2 separate regions of the Homo sapiens genome follow, and region 1 is linked to region 2. The links come from fine-mapping of genetic effects on gene expression. A gene starts in region 2. The other region holds a variant in brackets. All regions are shown on one strand. Distances are between the middles of the regions.

What was found. PIP is the estimated chance that this variant, and not a neighbour inherited with it, causes the effect. A credible set is the group of variants that fine-mapping cannot tell apart.
Region 1: its variant is the best candidate, but not a certain one, in a credible set for the expression of FGGY in pituitary (GTEx, PIP 0.63).

Annotation. Positions count from the first base shown.
Region 1 is chr1:59,754,597-59,757,096 of GRCh38, forward strand. All of the region lies in intron 14 of FGGY (FGGY carbohydrate kinase domain containing), which reads left to right. Among named protein-coding and RNA genes, the nearest start is that of MIR4711, 23 kb to the left of the region's middle. The variant A/G (reference allele first, on the strand shown) is at 1,536.
Region 2 is chr1:59,295,641-59,298,586 of GRCh38, forward strand. It overlaps FGGY (FGGY carbohydrate kinase domain containing), which reads left to right and starts at 1,454. Exons shown (of 16, transcript NM_018291.5): 1 at 1,454-1,510. FGGY-DT (FGGY divergent transcript) reads right to left here and starts at 910. Exons shown (of 2, transcript XR_001738089.2): 1 at 729-910; 2 at 1-124. RefSeq lists silencers at 856-1,395, 1,406-1,495 and an enhancer at 2,913-2,946.

The DNA.
Region 1 (2,500 bases), 460 kb after region 2:
TAGTAGAGACGGGGTTTCACTATGTTGGCCAGGCTGGTCTTGAATTCCTGCCCTCAAGTGATCCACCCACCTTGGCCTCCCAAAGTGCCAGGATTAAAAGCATGAACCACTGCTCCCGGCCCAACCTCATGCTTCTTTATGGTGACTGCTCCACCTCGTTAGGTGGCCATGTTGGACAGGATCTGAGAACCCCTGGCAGCTCTCTCATACATGGGCCACTTGGGGTCTATGGGAAACCTTTGTCTTTTGGATCTGGACAGACTCTGGCAGTGCTGGTTGATCCCAGGGTAACCTCTACTTCACTTTTACACTGCAGCTGTCAGCCAGCCTGTCTCTTCCAGACAGGAGTCACATACAAGCCACCATGTGCCACAACCTCAGGGACATGCAGCAGATTCTCTGCTGGTCTGTGTCTTCCTGACTCCTGAAGGGAGAGGATCTCTTCATACTTCACCCTGGAAGGAGGCCTGATGTGCAGTAAACCAACAGCTCTTTCCTAAAAATCCATCTCTGTCTGACCTTCCACATCAATGAAAGGTTTAAGAGTTGATTAATGGGTCCTCAGGCACCCTTCTTGCACATTCTTCAGGGTGGTCTGTTTCCAGTTCACTTTGGTATCTTATATCTGTCATCTTTAGATCTCAGCCAAAACTTCCATTTTAACATTCCGTCACGTGTATTATCCTTAAGTTCATTCATTCCGTAGACATTCCCTGAGTGCATACGATATGCCAGATGCCGAGTTTGGCAGTGAAAATAATTATAACAATTCCTGCTTTAAGGCGCTCACAGTCTAGTTGGGGAGGCTGATCTGTTAACAAAAAAATATGGTGCCATGTCATAAACGCTATGATAGACGGAAGCAGAAGTTGCTGTTGGAGCACATAACTCAATATAGGTGGGAGGCAGGCAGCGGGGATGAGTCAGAAAAAAATCTCAGTAGAGCTGATACCTGAGCTAAGTTTAACATTTAAATCTGTACTTTCTGAGAAACAGCATAACCTCTTTTTAAACCATTGAAATCTCTCTTGCTGATGTTTGCTTCTCAATTTATTTTTAAAACAAGCAAAGGTAATGTGGAGAAAGGAGGGAAGAATTCCCTGATGTCTGCCGTTTATGTGCACATCTGTTGCAGTGGGAAGGAAAATAACATTTATGGAGTACCTTCTATAATAGAAGTTTCCTGGATCCCACCCATGAGGGCGATCCTGGAATGTTGTCTCAAGTGTGGGGCCAAAGCACAGCCAGGAGGAGCATTCCCTGAGGGCAGTTTGAAGATTCAGAGCTGGCAATAGAAGGCAAGGTCCTCCCTAAAGCACAGCAGAGCACAACTCAAGGAAGAGACGAAAAGGACAAAATAAGAATGAGTGGCACGGTTGATGATGGGGATTGCTGAGACCATCTCAACAATACCCCGGCTTGCTCTAAGGGAATCAGGACTTCGTCTTTGAAGGAAACTGTTCTGGGGTAAGCAGAGCTCTTAACATACCTCTGCTAAGTGGAATGGCAGCATGTTCACTAAGATGTGTTTGACC[A/G]TTTGGCCCTCCACAAAATGACTCCAGACAGCCCTTTTAGTCTTCCTCTTTCTCCATGGTTTCTTTGTCAATAATTTTTCTTCATTAAAAAAAATCTCCTCCCTACTTAAGGCTGCCATTTCTTTCTGTTGTCATTGTGCTGGCTACTCTTAGCATCTCTGATCTCCCAATCAGCACATTCACATCCATTGAGAGCTGGGAAGCTAGATGTCTAGTTCAGAATGCACATGCTATCCTTGTGGAAGAGTCCATAGAGCAACCTAGCAGGAGTGGAAATTCGTGTAAGCTAGCAGATGAAAGAACCATCAGGTTACCTAACCCTTGAATAACTACTGAAAGAAGTTTATCCGCTTCTAGCGTAGTATTTATCACACTCTATTTTGATCACAGTAAATGTCTTTTCCACTCTATAGTGAGCTCTTTGATGAAAGGCCCATGCAATCTTCCTCTCTGTATTCCATGTAGATTGAGTGTTATGCTTGGCACGTGAAAGGGAGGCAATATGTTTTATGAATAGTCCAGGTGTCGAGACTTAGTAGTAAACAGACAAGTCCTTGCCCTGTGTAGCTTACATTCCGGTTAGGGCAAGGAGTGGAGAAGGCAGACAACGAACACATAAACCAGTAAATATACAAAGTGGCAGAAGGAAATTAGTGGCATGCAAATCAGTCAATCAGTCACAGTAAGGTGGCAAAGATGGTCAGGGGAAACACTTGGAAATGTTTTGAAGATACCCAGGGGCTCTCATATTCTGTATGGTATTCAGATTTTTTTTTTTTTTTTACATTTTTTCCTCCCTTACTAGTATGTGAGTTTCTCCAGGATAAAGAGTATGTCGTATGCAAATCTGTATCCCTAGCAGAGTGTGTGGTACATAGTAAGTGATTAATAAATGTGTAGAATAAGAAGTTGTACACATGTGATCCCAGAATGACTGCATCCTTAGCAATAGGAATTCAATAGCC
Region 2 (2,946 bases):
GAAAAGGTGAACAATCATGGTGCAGAAGAAAGAAAATGAGCCAAACCAGGATCCCTGGTAGAGTTGTAGTGCAAAGACTGGGGTTAATTGTGTGGCCTCAGCCTCACTGGGCTGTTCTCCTCACCTGTAAGACCAAGATAAGAGCACTTATTTACTTCGGGGTTGTTGTGAAGATAGCAGACAATCTTAGTGCACCTGCCACTTAAGATCCGTTCAGTGAAATTATTACCTTTCACAGGTGTGTCTTTGGAAAATCACTTCCCTTTCCTGGATCTCAGTTTTCTTTTCTAGGAAAACAACATGTTTGGACTCAGCGACTGCTAAACTGTCTCCCAAACCTCGAACTCCCTCAGCCTGGGATCCTGCCTTTTATGAAAATAGTTCGGATTGGAGCTCAGGTTGGAATTCTCGCTTTAGTTGCTTGCTAGCTGTGTGTCCCAGTAAAAGCTAAAAATTTCGGATTCCCCACATCTGTAGAATAGGGATACATAACATGCAGCTTATTAGAAAGGGAAGGCATGTGAGAATTAAATTAGGTCCGTGTCCAGTACCCACTAAATTGTAAAAACTTCTCAAAGGCAGGGACCCATCTGTTTTGTAGATTTACAGAATGTCATACGTTGAAGTACGGGGGTTCGCCACGGGATTAGAAAATTTCTGTAGAGTAAGGAACAAGACACAAGGTAAGCATTCAAGAATTGTAACCATGCAATATTCTTATTTCTTACAGTCGCCTACAACAGTCCTGGTGTTTAGTAAACGGTCTGACACACACACCCATCAGGGGCTGCGGAGAGTCCGCCTGGGTAAGCTCCGCAAGGTGAGTCCCCAGAGCCGGGAACTCGCAGCCTGAGCAGACGCAGCGTAGCCGATCTTGGGTCCGCGCTCCTCCCGCCTTGCCCAGCCCTGCCCGCGGTTGGCTAGGCCCCAGGGAACGCTGCAGCCGCGGGGTGGGCAGGCGACGGCCAATCCCACGCCCGGTTCAAAGGGCCAATCAGGCCGCGCTTTACAGGGGCCGCGCTTTACAGGGGCCGCGCTTTACAGGGGCCGCGCTTTACAGGGGCCGCGCTTTACAGGGGCCGCGCTTTACAGGGGCCGCGCTTTACAGGGGCCGCGCTTTACAGGGGCCGCGCCGGCGGGGGCGGGATCGCGCGCAAGGCGGGGCTGTAGCCGCCCCGGGACCGCCCTGCTCAGGCGCCGTGGGGTTCGGCGCGGCTACGTGCAGAATCCGTCTAGCTAAAATGTAATTTCAGATTGGACAAGTACTGTAAGTGACCCTCCTCTCAGTCCCACGTGGGCGCTGGGGGCTTTTGCTGGTGCGCAGGCTCTTAGCGCGCACGCCCAGAAAGAGGCTTCTCCAACCCGGCCCGGCCCTTCCTTCCCCTTTCCCGCAGTCGTTGCCTCCTCCTCCCCTGCCTCCTCCTCCCCTTCCTCCTCCTGGCCGCTTAGTCTCACACCCGCCGGGCCGTTGTTCCCGAGACGTTGTTGAGTCCCCTGTGTCCTCTTCTGGGTGAGGCGTCCGGCCACTTAAGGGAAGGGAAGGGAAGGGTCGGCCTTGACTGCATCCCCAAGGCTGCCTATTAGGTGTCTGGAACCCGTGCTGCTTCCTCTCCGATCAGTGCCCACTTATCTGTATTCAGTACTCTTTCTCTCCTCCCCTTACCCTTGTAGGACATTTTCCTGGCATTTGAGGAGCCTTTAATTCACGTCTGGCTACCGAAGGCATTTTTAGGCTAGTGTTGCTTGTAGATTTAAACGCTTCCAGCACTTGTGATAATGTTTGAGGCACAGCTGAGTTTAGATGAGATAATGCTGTTTGGTTACAGTTATCCTGAGTAGAAAGGCCTAGGGATATCTTTTCATTTTTAGCCGTTTCCTTTTTATTTAAAGATTGACAAGGGGCCGGGCGCGGTGGCTCACGCCTGTAATCCCAGCACTTTGGGAGGCCAAGGCGGGTGGATCACGAGGTCAGGAGATCGAGACCATCCAGGCTAACACGGTGAAACCCCCGTCTCTACTAAAAATACAAAAAATTAGCCGGGCGTGGTGGCGGGCGCCTGCAGTCCCAGCTTCTCGGGAGGCTGAGGCAGGAGAATAGCGTGAACCCAGGAGGCGGAGCTTGCAGTGAGCTGAGATCGTGCCACTGCACTCCAGCCTGGGGGACAGAGCGTCTCAGAAAAAAAAAAAAAAAATTGACAAGGTGCAAAATGGTGAATTTCCCTCATCATGGGCTGTTTTCCACTAAAGCACTTCTGTGTCTTAACACAAATTTCTTCCCCGAAGAGTCAGTCATGACATGACCAAAGTCTGAAAAGCAGTTAATCCTTAGGTTAAATTTTAAAGTATGAGACCAGGAGGGGTGAGGTGCTTATTCTTTTGACTTGTAAATCAGAATGAAAGAAGGGAAAGTCTTTTATTTTGTGGCTGTTATTTAAATGGTAGAGTTTTGCTTTGTATAGTTTTTGCTTGCTTTTCCTCTTTTTTTTCTATGATCCACCACGTGTATGTCCTGATTTTTTTCCTTTTTAACTTGCTTGCTGGATTTTCCAGCCAGATGACTGCCGCTTGGTCTTCTGGGAGTCTCCTGTTAATGGGGCCCTCATGCTTGGCTCTTGACCTGATGGCCACTGGCCTGGCTCTTGGAGGACCTCCTAGTGGGAGGCCCAGAGCACTGTTATTAAGGATGATTGGGGGAACAGATCAGAGGGGGTCAGCTGGGCCTGGAGATCAATTTTGAGGGGGAGGGAGGTTGGGAGCCTGCCTGGCTGGATTTGGAAGTCAAAACATGTGTGCTGGGAGAAGGGCATAACCCCAGAGGGTGGAGAGCCATGTCTTTCTGGATAAAATTAATAAGTTTACTGGGAGGAGGCTGGGCCTTCCAGGCTGTGTTAGTTTTTGTTGTGGGCCTTGGCTTTTCCTGGAATTTGGTTCCCTTTCCCTAACCTT